Linked DNA regions of Homo sapiens. The protein of the gene in region 1 purifies or fractionates together with the protein of each later gene. This does not show direct contact. Each region holds a gene or a part of one and is shown in the gene's direction. Other genes may lie near its edges.

Evidence for each region.
Region 2: the proteins of HTRA4 (region 1) and OTUD4 purify together in Homo sapiens (affinity purification with mass spectrometry; 2 studies listed by BioGRID and IntAct, with this or other methods). This does not show direct contact.
Region 3: the proteins of HTRA4 (region 1) and TTC28 purify together in Homo sapiens (affinity purification with mass spectrometry; 2 studies listed by BioGRID and IntAct, with this or other methods). This does not show direct contact.

The regions. Positions count from the first base shown.
Region 1 is NC_000008.11:38,983,779-38,989,806, forward strand, and holds the end of HTRA4 (serine protease HTRA4 precursor), read left to right. Parts: intron 1-4,157; coding exon 4,158-4,320; 3' UTR 4,321-4,885; downstream 4,886-6,028. UniProt on the Homo sapiens protein: Serine protease.
Region 2 is NC_000004.12:145,135,095-145,143,186, reverse strand, and holds part of OTUD4 (OTU domain-containing protein 4), read left to right. Parts: intron 1-852; coding exon 853-991; intron 992-1,547; coding exon 1,548-1,808; intron 1,809-3,195; coding exon 3,196-3,236; intron 3,237-4,536; coding exon 4,537-5,757; 3' UTR 5,758-8,092.
Region 3 is NC_000022.11:28,102,841-28,109,840, reverse strand, and holds part of TTC28 (tetratricopeptide repeat protein 28), read left to right. Parts: intron 1-1,437; coding exon 1,438-2,779; intron 2,780-4,038; coding exon 4,039-4,562; intron 4,563-7,000. UniProt on the Homo sapiens protein: During mitosis, may be involved in the condensation of spindle midzone microtubules, leading to the formation of midbody.

The DNA.
Region 1 (6,028 bases):
TGCTGATTCAGACTTGGGTACTTATAAAGGCTTTTTTTGTATTTTGGGAGGGAGGTGGTTCTCTATAGTCTAAGAAGAGCTCATGTTATGAGTTAATAGCATAAGTTTAAATTAATTTGGCTAGGAATTCCCAAATCTACCCTTTCAACATTAATAGTTATTACTTAATAACTATTAAGTGATTAACACCTATTAGGTATTAGTAACTATTAATTATTCATTAATAGTTTTTTTTTCTTTTGAGATGGAGTCTCACTCGTTGCCCAGGCTGCAGTGCAGTGGTGCAATCTTGGCTCACTGCAACCTCCACCTCTCAGGTTCAAGCAATTCTCCTGCCTCAGCCTCCCGAGTAGCTGGGATTACAGGCACCCGCCACCACGCTTGGTTAATTGTTGTATTTTTAGTAGAGACAGGGTTTCACCATGTTGGCCAGGCTGGTCTCGAACTCCTGACCTCAAGTGATCCACCCACCTCGGCCTCCCACAGTACTGGGATTACAGGCATGAGCCACCACGCCTGGCCATATTTTAGGTATTTTAAAACACATTTTTCGGCTGGGCATGTTGGCTCAGCCCTGTAATCCTAGCACTTTGGGAGGCTGAGGTGGGAGGATTGCTTGAGCCTGAGAGTTCGAGACCAGCCTGGGGAACACGGTGAAACCCTGTCTCTACAAAAAATAAAAATTAGGCCAGGTGCCGTGACTCACGCCTGTAATCCCAGTACTTTGGGAGGCCAAAGTGGGCAGATCACTTGAGGTCAGGATTTTGAGACCAGCCTGGCAAACTTGGTGAAACACCATCCCTACTTAAAAAATATAAAAATTAGCTGGGTGTGGTGTCGCATGCCTGTAATCCCAGCTACTTGGGAGGCTGAGGTCAGAGAATCGCTTGAACCTGGGCAGCAGAGGTTGCAGTGAGCTGGGATCACGCCCCTGTACTCCAGCCTGGGCAAGAAAGCGAGACCCCATTTAAAAAAACAAAAAACAAAAAACAAAAATTAGCCAGGTGTGGTGGTTTGCACCTGTGGTCCCAGTTACTTGGGGAGGTCGAGATGGGAGGATCACCTGAGTCTGGGCTGTAATGAGCTGTGCTCATGCCACTGCACTCCAGCCTGTGCAACAGAGTGAGACCCTGTCTCAAACAAACAAACAAGCAAAAAAAAACTACACCAAAACCTCACAAAACCTACATTTTTCTTTGAACTCTGAATGACAATATCAGAGGCCAGCGCTAAGACCTGTGTAATAAAGCAAAGGCTAGGACAGCTTCCAAAAGAAGGTTCTCCAGCTGATTTCACTGTTGTTTCAAAACATTTAATACTAAGTACTGAGAGAGGTGGCTTGTCCTACAAATATCATTCTCCTGGGCTTTTCTGTTGTACTTCTTTTTTTTTTTTTTTTTTGAGACGGAGTCTCGCTCTGTCACCAGGCTGGAGTGCAGTGATGCGATCTCGGCTCACTGCAACCTCTGCCTCCTGGGTTCAAGTGATTCTCCTGCCTCAGCCTCCCGAGGAGCTGGCACTACAGGCGTGTGCCACCACGCGCAGCTAATTTTTGTATTTTTAGTAGAGATGGGTTTTCACCATGTTGGCCAGGATGGTATCCATCTCTTGACCTTGTGATCCGCCTGCCTCGGGCTCCCAAAGTGCTGGGATTACAGGCGTGAGCCACCGCCCGCGGTCTGTACTTCTTTATTATCCCTTTCTCATTGTTTTTATTTTTCAAGAGCTCAGTAATCTGTTTAGATTATGGCACCACTTTCACTGGGGCTTTCCCCCTAGTGAAATCAGAGGGCACTGTTCAGCACAGCAGTCATAGGTCTCATGTTACTAAATTTGGCTTGTCCCTGGTTTCTCTGGACTTTTCTCATTCCTGCTCTGCTCCACTCTTCCCCCATTTCCTTAAGTTCTGGTTCAAGACCAAAGCTATTTCTTTCGGCTAAGTCCTTGCTACTCAGAATGTGGTCTGTAGACCAGCGTCATTAGCTCAGCTGGGGCTTGTTGGAAAGGCAGAATCCCAGGTCCCACCTTTGATCCACTGAATCGGAATCTGTGTGTTTAACAAGATCCCCAGGTGATTCATGTGTATGTTAAAATGTGAAAATTAGTGCTGGAAGTTGCTGATAAACAGAAATCAGGACTGGGCATGGTGGCTCATGCCATGATGTGGGAGGATCATTTGAAACCAGGAGTTTGAGACCAGCCTGAGCAACATAGTTTCTAAAGACAAATAAATAAAATAAACAAAATCAGCTGGGTGTGGTGGCAGGTGCCTGTAGGGAGGCTGAGGCAGGAGGATCATGTGAGCCCAGGAGTTTGAGGCTGCAGTGAGCCATGACTGCACCACTGTATTCCAGCCTGGGTAAGAGAGTGAGAACCTGTCTCAAACAAATCTATTCTTTCTGGCTTTCACTGACTTATACCTAATATAATGATAATTACACCACTATCTGGCACTTACAAAACTTTTACTATATCTCAGGCACTATTTGAAGTGTTTTATTTTTATTATTATTATTTTTTTGAGACTGAGTTTCGCTCTTGTTGCCCCAGCTGGAATGCAATGGCATGATCTCAGCTCACTGCAACCTCCGCCTCCTGGGTTCAAGCGATTCTTCTGCCTCAGTCTCCCAAGTAGCTGGGATTACACACCTAGCTAATTATTGTACTTTTAATAGAGACGAGGTTTCACTATGTTGGGCAGGCTGGTCTCGAACTCCTGACCTCAGGTGATCCACACGCCTGTGGCTCCCAAAGTGCTGGGATTACAGTGTGAGCCACTGCTCCTGGCCTATTTGAAGTGTTTTATACACCTGTTTGTGCTCCCAACATTTTATGATATAGGTATTATTTTATAGAGGAAGCAGCTGTGGTACAAAGAGGTTCATTAACTTGTAGAACGCAGTAAATCAGAGAGCAGAGAGCAGGGATGTGGGCCCTGGCTGAACCCTTCTATTATCCTGCTTTGGTGGCTGCTTTTCTGTTTCTGACAGGCAGAGTGATTTAGTGGCAAGAAGATGGGTTCCCAAGTCTGAAAGACCCAGGATGAAATCCCTCTCACAAGTTGCATGACACAGAAAAAGGTCATTTGTCCTGTCTGAGCCATAGTTCCTCATATTTGGTGCATAGGTTATTAGTAATAATTTGCAGGTTTCTTTTTCTCTTTTCTGACTCACAGGACTAGTATGAATTAAGTTCTCTATAAGTTCTTTCTTTGTACTCACTGGTCCTAAGTCATCCTCCTAAACTGTCTTTGTTCTAAGGTTATTTCTTGATTTTAGTTTTATACTTAAGCGTCTCTTCATATCCTCTTGCGTTAAGCTTCTTCTTTTTAAACTCCACATATCTTGATGATCAAACCACATTATCATTCTTCCTTGAGCTTCCCATTTCTATCAAGTGGTGTCTCCTGGAGTCATTTGCTGTTCCTTTTTCAGCCTATTTTCACCAAATCACTGGCATGGCTATTTCTGTATTGTAGTGTTTTGTATTTGGAGCTGGTTTTTGCTTCTAGAATATATACTCTATGTGAAGCAATTATGTTGAAGGCAATAAAGTCACAACTTTGGAGAAAAGGAGCCTAGAGCCAGAGCTGGAAATATTTAGACTCAGAAGGTTGGCGGGTTTTTGATTTAGTGGAAGCAGAATTCCTATAATGCAGCTCAGCATCCTTCCCAGCTCCATAAGCTGGGGCGGGGGGGTGGGGTGGGGTGGGAAAGACAGGCAAGTGAGTGGGCTGCCAGAATCAAACTGAGCCGAGTTTAAGTGTCTGGGAGAAAACATATTGCTTGGGCTTTTCACTTTGGCTGCTGAGGCTGGGAGCATGTTTGAAGTTCACAGAGGTCAGGGGTTGATAGAAATTAAAAGCTAAACTCCCCCTTCCAAACCAACTCCCCAAAATGGGAGGAGTAAACTTCTCACATGATTCTGATAGGAAATTAATTTTATAAAGGTAAATAAGACAGTTGTCCTCTAGGTGACTTTTTTGCAGCATATTTTAGAATAGCTTTATGATTTGGAAGGATTGAGGCTATTTTCTCGTTTGTATGCTTAATGCCAGCAAAATAGTGCCATTAAGACAGAAATATTAAATTATAGATGGGGATAAGTAAAATTCTTGTTATAGTTTCATGATCCTCTTTTTTTTCTCCCTCTCTCAGCTCTGGATTGAGAGATCACGATGTAATTGTCAACATAAATGGGAAACCTATTACTACTACAACTGATGTTGTTAAAGCTCTTGACAGTGATTCCCTTTCCATGGCTGTTCTTCGGGGAAAAGATAATTTGCTCCTGACAGTCATACCTGAAACAATCAATTAAATATCTTGTTTTAAAGTGGGATTATCTAAAAAAAAAAAAACCAGTTATATCACGTGGTTTGTATTGGAGATGTGCCAAACATGGCAAGAAGTTTTTGGATCTTTTTCTTACAAAGAAAAATGGATGGTTATCAACCCAAATGCCCATCAATGACAGACTGGATAAAGCAAATGTGGTACATATACACCATGGAATACTATGCAGCCATAAAAAGCAACAGTCCTCTGCAGGGACATGGATGGAGCTGGAAACCATTATCCTCAGCAAACTAACGCAGGAACAGAAAACCAAATACTGCATGTTCTCACTTATAAGTGGGAGCTGAACAATGAGAACACATGAACATAGGGAGGGGAACAACACACACTGGGGCCTGGCAGTGGGTAGGGTAGAGGGAGGGAGAGCATTAGCAAAAATAGCTAATGCATGCTGGGCTTAACACCCAGGTGATGGGTTGATTGATAGGTGCAGCAAACCATCATGGCACACATTTACCTATGAAACAAACCTGCACATCCTGCATATGTACCTCAGAACTTAAAAATAAAAATAAAAAGAAAAATGGTAATGTTGTGAGATTACAATTAAAAAATAAGAAAAATGGAGTTTGAAACACATATACACATTCAGGGATCATTAGGTTGGGGTACTATACTGTTGCTAAGATGCCTGACTATGTCAAGTGGAAGAAGAACACAGTGCCAGGAAATCTGGGGGAACTGATAACATTTTATTAAAGGCAAGAAACAACTAAAAGGCAGGCAGCTTCTAATTTAACCTTGAGGGAAGGACACTGTAGTATTTTAAACCTTCTCTATAGCCATAAACTAGATATAACACACACATATACAAATGGATCTGTCTACCAAAATTTAAGAAACAACCTGAATAAAGTGCAAAGGCAATCAATTGTTAAATAGTACTCCTTTAGTCCATCAGGTTTTCAGGTTGTATCACATTTGGCCAGGTTTGTGGGCAGATGGATGATGGGTGTCATTTACAAGTCAAATGAAAACCAGTAATTTTGGATTGTCACATAGGAATACTGATGATTCTCAAATTACCACTCTAGCAGCGAGAACAACTTCTTTTGTCTCCAGCAGCTTTACTGACAGTAAGAAGGGCATCTTCAGTAGTTTCTAGTCTTTTAGCCCTTCAACCAAGCTCTTACCCCTGGCAACATAAATGACTTCAAGCCTTGGAGCTGCAAAATTTCTTTTTTGGTCAGAGTCTCACTCTGTTGCCCAGGCTGAAGTGCAGTGGCAGGATCTCGGCTCACTGCAATCTCTGCCTCCTCAGTTCAAGTGATTCTCTTACCTCAGCCTCCCGAGTAGCTGGGATTACAGGTGCACGCCACCACGCCCGGCTAATTTTTGCATTTTTACTAGAGACTGGGCGGGGGTGGGGGAGTGTGTCTCACCATGTTGGCCAGGCTGGTCTCGAACTCCTGACCTTAAAGGATTCACCTGCCTCGGCCTCCCAAAGTGCAGGGATTACAGGCTTGCACCATTGCGCTGGCCCTAAAGTTTCTTATTTTTTAAAGAAAACAACTTTTGGTAGGGTTATGAATATACTTAGGAGGTTAAAGTGTGAAATGAGGCAGGACTTGGTTAGGTGAAAAGTAGCATCTTATTTTGGGTAATATTATAATTTATGTTTTTTAGACTTCCCTTAGAAATTTTTTTAAAATATACATATGGCATCCTTG
Region 2 (8,092 bases), on another chromosome or scaffold:
CTCTATTTATGGAATGTTATAGAAATAACCACCATTTTCTGGTGATTGAGACCATTTTTTTGAATTGACTTTGAATATATTTATATTTGTTATCGTTATATTTGATACTTTGTATTACTTTGGTAGATTTCCTTGAAAATTAGATTTTTGAAGGGAAACTGAATTTCTACTTTATTTCAAAATTTAAAAGAGTTATCTGCATCAGTTATTTCACAGATGGGAGGGAATGTACTGATTGAAAAGGTTTGAAAAATATACATTAAAAAAATACCAATTTACAAATTTCATGATGAACCTGTGTTCTAGCAGACATTTTAGTTCTTGACTAATACAAGAGTAGAGAAAGTTAAATGTTAAATGCCTTTCAACCAACATTCTTCATATTGGTAAGAAAGCATATAGTTACATGAGGAGTTTTTCTAAATAATCATGAATTTCAAGATTTCAATGATTTTGCTCACTTGCCTTAAAAGTATTGTGTTGTATTTAACTCTGCTAGTGGATAGGTGCGGTGGCTCACGCCTGTAATTCCAGCACCTTGGGATGCCAAGGCGGGCAGATCGCTTGAGCCCAAGAGTTTTGAGACTAGCCTGGGCAACAGGGTGAAACCCTGTCTGTATTAAAAAATACAGTCCTTGTTGGTAGGCAACCCTTGGTTAGGATCAAATTTGTTTGCATATTATCTTTAGCTACTGTGTGTTTTTCTTACATTTCTAAGACTATAAGGGCTATTTGTACTTCATTTGTATAAAAGGCAGGCAACTCAATATGTATCTGGTGGTTAGAAATAGTGTTAAAGCAAAATGACCTCTTGTCTTTTTCTGTCTTCCCCCACTCACCCCTTTCTTGAAGAAGCCAGCAGAACATGTGTCTTTGTCAAATCCAGCTCCCCTTCTAGTTTCTCCAGAGGTACATCTAACTCCTGCGGTGCCTTCTTTACCAGCCACTGTGCCAGCCTGGCCAAGTGAACCTACAACTTTTGGACCAACAGGTTAGAGAAGGGTTTAGAAAATCTAGCCAGCCAAAATACCTTTCTAGTCAGAGACTTCAAATTCTTGAGTGGAAGTTTGACCTCTGAGCAGGATTAGGTGTGTGGAGCCTCACAGAGCTTTCTGTGATACTCTGCTTTGCTCTGCTTCCAATGTGGAAAGACCATGTACATTTGGTGTTGTATTCATCTGACATATGCCCTCATAGTCTCAGGAGCATGATGTTTGAGCTGGTTGCTTTGGTTGCTCAGCACTAATTAGCACCACGGTTTGATGCTTCCTTCATGGGCCAGCTCTTTATGGCCCCGTAATGAACCCCTTGACCAGCCCCATGTCCTACACGTGCCTGCAAGAGCTACTATTAGAAGACATTGACTCAGAGCTTGTATCCTGGACGTATTTCCTTCTTGGTGTCCAGGAGGGCTCTTGGTTGATACTAAAAGGTACTACTTTAGATTGGCTTTATCAGTTATACAGCATTCTTTATAGGTTAATGTAAGCATATTTGTAGAGATTTTCATCTTTTGTCATTTTGATTCCTTTTCTTCTCTTTTGTAGGTGTCCCTGCTCCAATTCCCGTTTTGTCAGTGACACAGACTTTGACCACTGGACCTGATTCAGCTGTATCCCAAGCTCATTTAACACCCTCTCCAGTTCCTGTGTCAATACAGGCAGTTAACCAGCCCTTGATGCCTTTGCCTCAGACATTGAGCCTTTATCAAGACCCACTCTATCCTGGGTTTCCTTGTAATGAAAAGGGAGATCGAGCCATTGTACCACCTTATTCACTGTGTCAGACTGGGGAGGACCTACCTAAAGGTGAGCTCCTTCTCCAAGTTCAAATCGACTTTATCAAGTCCAAATAAGCTTAGTTAAGAAATGAAGAGATGTAAGTAGAGGTCAGAGGTCTGGTTTCTTAGTAAGCTCAAGGATGGGAAGGACAGCAAAGTTTTAGCTATTAGTCAGTCATTCTTGTTTCAGCTTGATTTATTAGAAAATGTATTATAATTTTTTTTTTTTTTTTTTTTTGAGACGGAGTCTCGCTCTGTCACCCGGGCTGGAGTGCAGTGGTGTGATCTCGGCTCACTGCAACCTCCACCTCCCAGATTCAAACAATTCTCCCACTTCAGCATCCTGAGTAGCTGGGATGACTACAGGCACATGCCACCAGGCCTGGCTAATTTTTTGTATTTTTTAGTAGAGACGGGGTTTCACCGTGTTAGCCAGGATGGTCTCGATCTCCCGACCTCGTAATCTGCGTGCCTTGGCCTCCCGAAGTGCTGGGTTTACAGGTGTGAGCCACCGCGCCTGGCCCAGAAAATTTTTTTTTGTTTCTAGCATACTTGTTAATGCTAGTATGCTTAGTAATGATACCTCCTTCTGTGTTTTTACATAAATGGACTTGAAACCATTCTGAATTACAATAATAATTTCACTAATTAGATACCTAAACACTGTGGAGCTTTATCAACACTGGTCTGCATTTCAGACATGCATCCGTGAAAAAGTTACAGAGAAAAGCAAATATAGTATGTAGTGGCTGTTAAAGTACTATATTTAGTATGTCTTATTTTTGTTTAAAAAATTCTTTCAAAGTTTGCTTTCCCTCTTTATTTTTAAGGAATTTACACCTCCCTCCTTTTTAGTTTCCAAAATTTTATATCTGTAAATTTGAGTAATGCACTGACTACTATATGCTGTTTACCTGGATTTATGTGGATGTTTTTGTTTTATTAGTTAGTAGTTTGATGTTTGTGTCTATGAGTAACTGGCTCATGGCATATGAATACTTGGAAGAATATTATCCTGCAAATGATGCTACTAATAAGTTAGGTTTTATGTTGATTTTACCATTCTTCTCAACATTTTTATTTCCTAATTTTTAAACCCCCAGAAAAGTTGAGAAAGAAAGCCACCTGAATGTCCTTTACCCAGATTCAGTTTTAATGAGATAAAAATTTCAATCTAAGCCATTTTGGGATTTATATGCTAACAGACAAAGCCTATTGAATCTGGAATTAACCTTTGGGAACAACCTGTTTTTGGGTTGTGTTATATTACAGTTTTTATCTATGTTTTGTATCACAGGCTAGAGAAGACAATTATAGTAGGTAAAATTGTCTTTAGAACTATATATTTAATGAGGATGATTTAAAAAAATCTCTGCAGATATATAATTTTAACAAGTGATTACTTTTATTTTTAGATAAGAATATTCTTCGATTCTTCTTCAATCTTGGTGTGAAGGTATTTACATTTTATCATCTTAAAAGTTATTTTATTCATTAATAGTGTTTTAAATTATTACTAGTGTTAACTCTTACCCTGTCAGTCAGTAACCTAAAGTTTACTAAATCTCATCATTTTAAAAACCAGCATTTTCAGTACTATATCGTTTGTTTTTGGTGCTAGTAGAGGCTCCAGTTTTACTTACTTTTTTGTCTTAACTGGTGATGGCTTAACCTGTGAGTATATTTAAGACATAGCTGCATCTTTGGGCAGCCTAGTGGAAATGCCCTTGCTGGGGAATAATTAGATGTAAATCTGGGCTTGAAGTTCTGCTCCATCACTCTTTAGCTGAATTTCCCTGGGCAAGCCATGTAGTGTATCTGGGCCTAGCTTTTTTCATTTATAGAATGGGGGTAATATTCTTTACTTGCCTCCATTATTGAAAAGATCAAAGGAAATAACGTGTACATCCTCCTATGTAAGATAGTGTGGTTGTTGACTAGAAGAGCAGAGGTATCCTTTGGGAAGTGGTCAACCTAGAAATAGCTTTTCTTAGGTTGGAGAACTCTGTCCTTGTTAAATGTTAGGTTTTCTCCTGACCTAGATTAGTTTTTGTGGGTTCTAGACAGTTAAACTATGAAACGAAGTGCCCTACCTTTAGCCTGCTGACCACTTTCATAAAAAGAAACTTGATTATTTTACTATCTGCTGCATTGCTTAATTTTAATGTATTTAATGTTGATTTTAATTGGTTAGCCAATTAGCTGGTTATACTTTCTTCATATTTTGGTTTTTAGCTGAACTCTTGCAGAGGAAGGATTTGGAATATTTCATTTTCAACATTATCCCTCCCTGATTAGAGGTCTAACTTAATCCTTACATTCGGAGTACTCTTGGGGGCTCCTAGAATTGCAGAGTCCTGACATTGGAGATCATCTACTCTTATACTGACATTCCCAGTAAAACAAATTCAGATGTTAACTGGCCTGCATGGGGTCACACAGTGAGTTAGTGGTAGAGCCCGAATGTGAATGCAGGTCTGGCTAAACAGTCAGTGATGGAGATACTATCTCCTATCAACCTATGAGGACTTCAGATTGGTTTTAGGACAGGAGCAAGCAATGGAGTCTTAAAGCAGTGAATTTTGTAATTCATTTTCACGTTGGTTATCACAGTGATTTAGTATTTGGACTATAGATTATATGGTCTTTGTAGGCATGAGAAACTTATTTTGACCCTAGTACTTGTAGATTGATATCCACCCAAACCTCTCTTTTTTCTCCTCTTTTGTTTATTTAACTGTTTTTTGTCTCTTCAGGCATACAGTTGTCCTATGTGGGCCCCACATTCTTACCTGTACCCTCTGCACCAGGCCTACCTGGCAGCCTGCAGGATGTACCCAAAGGTCCCTGTCCCTGTTTATCCTCATAATCCCTGGTTCCAAGAGGCTCCTGCTGCTCAGAATGAAAGTGATTGTACCTGTACTGATGCCCACTTTCCTATGCAGACTGAGGCCAGTGTTAATGGTCAAATGCCACAGCCAGAGATTGGACCGCCGACATTTTCTTCACCTCTGGTTATCCCTCCATCTCAGGTGTCTGAAAGTCATGGACAATTGTCTTACCAGGCTGATCTTGAATCTGAGACCCCTGGGCAGCTTCTGCATGCTGATTATGAAGAGTCACTAAGTGGCAAGAATATGTTCCCCCAGCCATCTTTTGGACCCAATCCATTCTTAGGCCCAGTTCCTATTGCACCTCCTTTCTTTCCTCATGTTTGGTATGGGTACCCTTTTCAGGGATTCATAGAAAATCCAGTAATGAGGCAGAATATTGTCCTGCCCTCTGATGAAAAAGGAGAATTGGATCTGTCTCTGGAAAATCTGGATCTGTCTAAAGATTGTGGTTCAGTTTCAACAGTAGATGAGTTTCCAGAAGCCAGGGGTGAACATGTACATTCTCTCCCTGAAGCAAGTGTGAGCAGTAAGCCGGACGAAGGCCGGACAGAGCAATCTTCCCAGACACGAAAGGCAGATACGGCATTGGCTTCCATCCCTCCTGTAGCAGAGGGAAAGGCTCATCCTCCCACTCAGATTCTAAACAGAGAGAGAGAAACTGTGCCTGTTGAACTTGAACCTAAAAGGACCATTCAAAGCCTGAAAGAAAAAACAGAAAAAGTAAAAGATCCTAAGACTGCTGCTGATGTGGTCAGCCCTGGGGCCAACTCTGTTGATAGCAGAGTGCAAAGACCAAAAGAAGAGAGTTCAGAAGATGAAAATGAAGTGTCTAATATTTTGAGAAGTGGTAGATCCAAGCAGTTCTATAATCAAACTTATGGAAGCAGGAAGTACAAAAGTGATTGGGGCTATTCTGGTAGGGGTGGATATCAACATGTGAGAAGTGAGGAGTCCTGGAAAGGACAGCCAAGCAGAAGTCGGGATGAAGGTTATCAGTACCATCGAAATGTCAGAGGGCGACCATTTAGGGGAGATAGGAGGAGATCAGGGATGGGAGATGGCCATAGGGGACAGCACACTTGATGGTTGTTGCCGAAGTATTTTCTAACAGAAACTCTTAGGTGGAATGTTTCTGAAGGCTTTAAAAAAAATACAATAAAGTAAAAACCGCAGTTGGAACTCTTTCCTCTCCCCAGCCCCCCTTACCTTCACTCCCATACTGGACAAGACATTTTGGACATGAGTTCAAGGGGGCAGGTTAATTCCTGGCATTGCCAGTTTTCTTCATTCAGAATCTGTTTGTTGATCAAGTGACTGTCCCCGTAAAAAGTAGAAGATAAGTTTGTTAAAGTATTTTTTATAAACAGCTTAATATAAAACATTATAGATTTAGTGTTTGGCTTTTTTCCTTATAAGTTTATAAGTTTGATTTCAGATGTTGGAAATGTGTGCTTTATAGTGTTTACTAAAGTGACAAGAAAATATACCATTTGACACACTATAGATTCCAAACATAACGTTGCACCAAATAGAAATGTATATTTTATTATGCAATGCCTTAGTCATAAACTGGGCTCAAACAATTCTCAGCCTAAAACACTGTTGTCTTTTAAAATGCTTCCAACCCAAAGGCCTTTCATCTCAATATCTGTCAAACTTGAATAATGTCTTCTCTTTAATATTCACATAAGGCAGCCTATTAACTGTGTCTTAGCAATGTTGTATATAGTTCTTTTAATATTCATAAGGTATATTTTTGAATTTTGGTATTTGTTGAGATTGCATAGAAGAATAGTAGGAAATCCAATGAAATGGCTGTTTCCACCAAGAATTCTTAGCACTGGTGTAAATATCATGGTGCCTACTCGAAAGAAATGTAGATGCTATGCATTTTGAAAATAATCTGCATCAGTTAGAACTGCAGAAGTTTTTTTAATGCCACTTTAACACTAATGCACTGACAGATTCTAAATATTTTGTGAGAAGAAATGTTAAAAATTTTTAGCTTGACAGGTTTCTAGAGTTGTTTTCTTCCTCCCCCCCCCCCCCGCACCATTGGTTGTGTATCACTTTCACTTTACACTTGCATGTTCTACTTGTCAGGGCTGGAACTATTGTATAGAAGATAATATGATTGTGACTTCTAGTTCTTTTCTAGAGGATGCTGCTAGAAAATGGTTTTGCTTTGTATTTTATAGCTTGTTACCCTTAGGTAGGTAACATCTTACATTCTGTTTTCTTCCAGTCTTTGCAGTATTCACTAGAGGTTCCCTTTGCATGTTGCACTCTGTTCTCATTTGGAGATTGAACTCTGAATTAACACAGTATTCATTCATCTGTGTTATTTTGTAAAAATAACTGTAGCTTATATTCTTTATTTGTGCATACCAATGTGAAAATCCACTCTTTTATTATGTTGAGATTATCTTCTGATCAGGAAGTTTGAGTGCTATGCAAATAACATAGTAGTAATTTCTCTTTGCATGCCATGTGTAATATACCTAGCCAAAACCAGATGCGGTGACTTTCTTTTTTTGTAAAGCAAATTACTTAAGAAAATACAATTCACTTGAATTTGACAAACTGAAACAGATGGGTTTTCTGGGTTCTCTGATAACCTATGGGAATGTTTGGATGCCAGTTGGGCTAGTGAATCGCCACTGTACTGTAATAATGGTTATTTACCTCTGTGCTGTTTTAATTACCTAACGTCTGTGTAACTGCTGATTTGAGTAGTGATTAGCATTTAGATAATGTAACAGGATTTTAGAGAGCACTTTGAAAGATAACATTTTATTATGATGGTGCTAGGTAAAAAATTGTAAAGACTGGGATGGTTGTGTGGAAAACTTTTCTTGAGAGAACCTATTGAAAGGAATTTGTTGTCACCTTCTTAACTAGAATAGTTGTTGAAGGTACCGCTTAAGCCATTTTTTTCTTAACATCGGTGGCTCAGTTAAGGAATGAGAAGATAGAGGGTCCTCCACTTTCAGCTCATGCTTTTTTATGTAGGACTAGCTTACCTGATTTTAATGAAAATCACATTTTGATACAAACACCAGATTTGAAAGTTCAATGTGTTTGATCTCAGGAGTCCAAAATAAGTTGTTGCTTCTAGTGTCCTGCATTTTATTGACTGGGGTTTGATCTCAGCTTCTGAAAATGTTTAAAAATTGGAAGGAAATACTACTCATATCTTCATTGTCACTTTGTCTTACCTCAATTGAGTAACAGAATATAGCTCCTGAAGGAAACACTGATTTGCTTTCTGTTTCCCATATCTCACCTCTAGGATATGATGGAAGAAGTGCTTGAAAGAGAATTTTAGCAGATGGTACTTTTCTCAGTGACCTCTGGAATAAAAGAACTGACTTTTGATAGTTTTAAAATTAATCTTTGCATGAAGGTTGGTTTCGCT
Region 3 (7,000 bases), on another chromosome or scaffold:
TTTAGTCACCACTGGAAAGCTCACAGACTGATGCATGGAAAAGCATGTTCAAAACCAAAGGCAAGGAGAAACCTGTTTGCATACTAGCTTCTCTCCACCTTTTCTAGTGGTGGCCCTCACTCTAGCCCCAACTGGGATGGACGAAGCTCTCCTTAAAGCCAGCTCCCAAGTTACCATTATGCTATCCCTCATTTGAAACCACTTTATAGTTATGATATGTATGATATAACTCACTTTTTTAAACTGCTTGTTAAAACAATAGTTTAGCTTAGCAGCTATAATATGGTTCATGAGGTTTGTTTGGAGCACTGTTATTGTTGATTGTAAAAGCAGTATAGCAGAATTACAAGAGATTTTAGAACAAAAATTACTGAAATTCCACTACCTAACAAGGCAACTATTTTTGTTTTTGTATAACCCCGTCAAGAGCTTGTCCGTGTGTATGGACATACTTACTTTCCTAGTTATTGTCACGGGAGCATGCAGCATTTTTTCCTGATTTTTCCAGTTAATATGATTACAAGAACATTGTTTCCCATTTTTCAGCATAGACTTCATAATTATCTTTTTAATGACTGCATAATCCTCTATTGAGTTGATATACCAAAATGTACTTATACAATCCCCCAGTGTTTCACATTTAAGATGTTTCTGATTTTCCAGTAGTTTATGGTGCCACATTGAAGGTTGTTACGTGTATTGTTATGCAATCTTTTGTGTTTGTCAGATTATTTTCTTAGGATACTTTCCCTCGAGTAAGATTGCTGGGTCAGAGTAGGAGCGCCGTTTGTGGTTCTTGCCAGGCTGCTTATGCAAAAAGGTTGTTCCAGTTTATGTCCCCAGCAGTTGGTGTGTTTACCAATTTTAGGACAATCTCATCAGTGTAGGAGTTGTGGTTAATTTTTTTGTTTGCTAATTTAGCCAAAGCAACATGGTACTTCAGGGTTGCTTTATTTTGCATTTCATTGATTATTAAAGGAAATTAGCATTTTCCCTTGTGGTTACTCTTTGTATTTCTGTGGATGTGAGTTGTCTGCTAACATTTACAGGTCTTCGCCTATTTTAGTAAATTGGGATCTTCATTTTTAAAAAATCAAACCAAATAAACTCTTTATACGCAATGGCTATTGAACTTTTTCATTTATGTTTAATATATTTTCCAGTATTGTTTTGCCTTTTAATTTTAGATATGTATTTGTAGTACAAACATTCTTATTTTTGTAATAAAATCAGTAAATGTTTTTTTCTGTTGCTTTGAAACTTAAGCTATCCTCTCTGTGGAGAGCTGATAAATATTTAATTCTACCTTCTGTTATTTTAAATTCTTTAATTCATCTGGATTGCATTTTACTATAAATTGAGATGCAAATTACATTTCTTTCTACATTGCAAATCAGTTATTTCAGTCTTAGTCTGTTCTTTTATTCTCTTTCTCAGGAATCATACACCAGATGAAAGGTGATTATGACACTGCACTGAAACTCCACAAGACCCACCTGTGCATTGCCCAGGAGCTGAGTGATTATGCTGCCCAGGGCCGTGCCTATGGGAATATGGGCAATGCCTACAATGCCCTGGGCATGTACGACCAGGCGGTCAAATACCATCGGCAGGAGCTGCAGATCTCCATGGAAGTGAATGACCGCGCCTCACAGGCCTCCACACATGGGAACCTTGCCGTGGCCTACCAGGCCCTGGGTGCCCATGACCGGGCCCTGCAACACTATCAGAACCACTTGAACATCGCCCGGGAGCTACGAGACATCCAGAGCGAGGCCCGGGCCCTCAGCAACCTGGGCAATTTCCACTGCTCTCGGGGAGAGTATGTCCAGGCTGCCCCCTATTATGAACAGTACCTCCGGCTTGCTCCCGACCTTCAAGACATGGAAGGAGAAGGGAAGGTCTGCCACAATCTTGGCTATGCCCATTACTGCCTTGGAAACTATCAGGAGGCAGTGAAGTACTACGAACAGGATCTGGCACTGGCTAAAGACCTTCACGACAAGTTGAGCCAAGCAAAAGCCTACTGCAACTTGGGCCTAGCATTCAAGGCTCTGCTGAATTTCAGTAAAGCTGAAGAGTGTCAGAAGTACCTACTGTCCCTAGCCCAGTCTCTGAATAATTCCCAGGCTAAATTTCGAGCCCTAGGAAACCTGGGCGATATATTCATCTGTAAAAAAGATATAAATGGTGCAATAAAATTCTATGAGCAGCAACTGGGCTTAGCTCACCAGGTAAAGGACAGAAGATTAGAAGCCAGTGCATATGCAGCCCTGGGCACTGCATACCGAATGATCCAGAAGTATGACAAGGCCCTGGGTTATCACACACAGGAACTGGAGGTATATCAGGAGCTGAGTGACTTGCCAGGGGAGTGCAGAGCTCATGGGCACCTGGCTGCTGTCTACATGGCCCTTGGGAAATACACAATGGCATTCAAGTGTTATGAAGAGCAACTGGATCTAGGGCAAAAGCTGAAGGATCCGAGTCTGGAAGCCCAGGTCTATGGCAACATGGGCATCACAAAGATGAACATGAATGTGATGGAAGAAGCCATTGGCTACTTTGAGCAGCAATTGGCCATGCTGCAGCAGCTAAGTGGAAATGAGTCTGTGCTCGACAGGGGCCGGGCCTATGGCAACCTGGGGGATTGCTACGAAGCCCTGGGTGACTATGAGGAAGCTATCAAATACTATGAACAATATTTATCTGTCGCGCAGAGTCTGAATCGCATGCAAGACCAAGCCAAGGCTTACCGGGGCCTGGGAAATGGACACAGGTAAAAATGACCAAGGACAATTGTGGTTTATAGTTCTGCAAAAAGAGCATTTGTGGCAGTAAAGGCAACTTCGTGTCTGCATGGCAGTTTGTTAACTACAAACATTTTCGTACATATCTCATCTGATTCCTCCAACAACTGTTTGAATCAAGTAGTTGATGTTGTTACCCTTATGTTATGGATGAAGAAACTAAAGCCCAGAGAAATTGAGTTAATGCCTAAGATTATGCAGCTTAAAAGGGACAGCTGAGAGTTAAACCCAGGGCTCTGTGACTCCAAATGCAGTGCCTTTTGACTACATTAGAATGAGAAGGATAATAGGGATGGGGAAGGTGAACGAGTCACTTTCGCTGATCTTTTCTGAATACCTCCCACATTATATGAATGTGTTTATTAATACAACATCTGCACCTAACCAATTACTTAGGCCCCATTGTGTTGCTCCTCAGAAAAGCCACCTGATAATAGGAGAATGCATAAATGTACTATGTTGCATGCATCATCTGTGCAAGGTCCCTTGCACAGATATCTTAATAGTTTTAACAGTTTTGTATTACTCTATATCTATTATCATCTGCTGTGGGATGTGGGATTTATTATCACCAGAATTGGAGGCTCAGGGGAACTAATTCATGTGCCCCACACAACTGGTTTGGTCATACTCTTTCCACGCTTATCGTGTCTTCTCTTAGCAGCAGAAAAAGACACACTGTTGGTCAAGGTGATACTTTCTCCTAAATGTGGGGAACCCAAGAAGGTGCCTGTGTCTGCAGGATATATGGCCCCACCAGAGAGGCAGGGGATTAGGGCTCCTGGAGTGGAGGAAGGGCAAGGGTCAAACTAAATCTTCACCCACAGAGTGCTCTGAGAAGCTCAGGGTGAAAGATTTATAGCCACTGTGAAGTGATTTCAAAAACATAGTCTAAGCGGTAGTGGAAATTGGGAGGCCTGAAGAACCAAACAGTTCACTTGCTATCATTGTGCCTATTAATATATTTTATGTTTCCTCTGGGGTGTATATCCCATTGAATCTCAAGCTCTTGGGAAGGTCACTAAGGGATGACTTTTGAATTGCTTTCCAGATTATGAAATTCCTCTGCATCTCACTCTAAGGGCACATGATAGATTTTAGCTAGAAGAGGAGTTAAGAGCTTCTATAGTAAGTGACAGTGACAAATGCTTTTCATTTTCTCAGGGGCTTTAGCATGTCTGCACCTGCATGAAATAATATCATTGCTTTTCTGTCTACATCCCCACAGGGCAATGGGGAGCTTGCAGCAAGCCCTTGTGTGCTTTGAAAAGAGGCTCGTGGTTGCTCATGAACTTGGAGAGGCCTTCAATAAAGCCCAGGCCTATGGAGAGCTGGGAAGTCTGCACAGCCAATTAGGGAATTACGAACAAGCCATTTCCTGCCTTGAACGCCAGCTGAACATTGCTAGAGATATGAAAGACCGAGCCCTGGAGAGTGACGCAGCCTGTGGCCTGGGGGGCGTTTACCAGCAGATGGGGGAGTATGACACAGCCCTGCAGTACCACCAGCTTGATCTACAGATAGCAGAGGAAACCAACAACCCCACGTGCCAGGGCCGAGCCTATGGGAACCTGGGCCTGACTTATGAATCCCTGGGCACCTTCGAGAGGGCTGTGGTCTATCAAGAACAGCACTTGAGCATTGCTGCACAGATGAATGACTTGGCGGCCAAGACGGTGTCATATAGTAGCCTTGGAAGGACCCATCATGCCTTGCAGAACTATTCCCAAGCAGTCATGTACTTACAGGAAGGTAGGTGAAAAGGCCCATTGTGTTCTCTTGGCCTACTTGAAATCAAGTTCAGAGTCAGAACTCAAGACTCAGAGGGAAGTATGCACAGTTTGAATGGCCACCTCTGTGTGGAGTAAGGGTCTCAGAGGCCACATTGTCAGTTCAACTCCAGAATCACGGTGTCCCCACCAGGTGTCCGTTGATAGTACTAAGGTGTTTCATTGTCCATAGCACCTTGCCCTGCTCTCTCGGACCCAGATTGTCTTACTCTCTCAGTGACAGCATCTACTGCTCGCCAGCTGCCCAAGGAGCTGATACCCTCCTTGCTTTTCAGAACCCTCTGAGGAATGAGCAGCACGTTCTCGCACAGATGAATCAAGTAAGATGTAATCCTAAAAAATTATAAGGGTTCGAATCAGAAGAAAATGCCCATCTGCTCCAGGCTCTGTTGTCCCTCTAGAGAATATCTAAACTAACTATATTAAAACTTTATAGAAGTCAGTTCTGACATGGCAGCTGAGGTCTAATCCAGAAGTATCAGTCTGAGGGGTACTCAAGCAGTAAACCAGGCTTCTTTCTCAGCATTTGTCACCTACAGTGCTTGGGTTGGTGCCACAGTAGGGTCTTGTTCCAGGCTGGCCTAGAAACTGAAGGCTGCACAGTTGGACCTTGGATGCTTCCTTCCTCCGAAAGCAGAAGTCCCATAGCAATGTATTTGCCCTCCACCTCTTTACATTGAGATGAGGCTTTCTGCTCTTGAAAGTCCTTCTCACACAGGCATATTGGATCCTCTCACCCTAGAAGGGAAAAAGGGCAGATAGCTCACTGGTAAAAGGAATGGTTACTGATTTCAAGCAAAAACTCTCATTTCCAGGGGGCTTTGCACATAAAGTTTATTTAAGCTGATTCAATTCTCACAATAGTCTTGTGAGGTATATCTTTTTATTCCCATTTTTGCAGTTGAATCACCTGAGGCTCAGAGAAGTACAGTGATTCAATCCTAATCATGTAGTCAGTTAGTCAAGGAGTAGGGCCCAGCCCGAGTTTTCCAACCCAGAAACCATACAAGATCCTCTCTGAAGTTGTTTCTAACTTTACAGTTGCAGAGTAGGGTTGGGCATCCTACCCGCTTTTACTCCTGAGCCCCCACTGGGAAGCCAGGAGAGAGAGAAGCAGCAAGCAAAGAGGAGAGTGGGTAAAGAGCTGATGATTCGCTGGTCTCCTTTGCAACAGACCAGGGACTGCACTGGCCTGCAGTCTGAGAGGTTACAGAGAGTCTGGAAGCCACTTCCCAGACCTTATCTACCTCCGCTTCTATCCACATGGGGCTCTGCCTCTATGCATTAAATGAGAATGTTGGCTTCTAATTTCCTGAAACTTGACTGTGGTAAAATTCCAACAGACAAGGAGCAATTTTCATTTGAATTTGTAAAAACTATTAAATTCAGTCATATGACAACTTTTCAGCTGTGTTCTTTTGTACTTCCTGAAATACTATTTCCATGAAACAGCTGGTTTGCCTGAGACATTGCAACACAATTCTATATTTGTGGAAAACTCTCAAGTTCATTTTTATTGTTTCTTGTAATTTTTTAAGTCTTGCAGAGATCTAAAAACTCTAATTTGTAGCATCTCTACAGTGTCTGTCTTGTGGATGTGTCCACTAGAGAGCCTGCAGCTGATGGCTTTCCTCGTGGGCCAAACCAAATGCCTCTTCTCATGAGGGCAGGACACCTGGATGGTGCTTTCCGAATGCTCTGAGTTAGGTCTGCAGCCTCTGGCAAGGAGGGACTAGTTTATCTGGAAACCACCCTACTGCTCCCTCTCCCCTGGCTTTCTGAGGGGATGAGGCTGTGGGGCCTTGTAGATCAGCATCACCCTGCTTCAGTGCAATAGACTCTCACAGGTGGGGCCTGGTCTGAGCCTTTTGAACAAGCTCTCCAGGTGCTGTGGAGGGAGACACCTCTGGATAAAACCACTGGTCTCACCCAGCCCTTCCTCTTCTTGCAAATGAAGAAAGGGAGCGTGGATCAATTTGGTGACTTTCCTGGAACCAGTCCCTGACAAACTATAGGTTCTAGGAGAGCTGGATGGGTGAGTCAGGTTCCTAAGAGGCAGAAGCAGAGAGAAGCTGGGGCAGGACAGATACCATGTCTATCCAGGGGGCTTTTAACTCTTCATTGTTGAACCTCAGCTAGAGTCCTACATGCTGAGGATATAGCAGGAACAAAGCAAAGTCCCTGTTTTCATAGAACATGGCTTCTAAGCAGGAGTTGTCTCAGTGAATTTTACTTCTGACTCATAGATCTTGACCTAGAAGGGACATCTGTATTGAAGAATTAATGTGTTTAGCTTATTGAAGGTTTAAACAATCGGTATCCTTCTGGTTTTCTCCCAAGAACCATCTTCTTTCATATGTTTTTCTATTCTGTGAGATGTTTAAAAATGTGAATTATTTA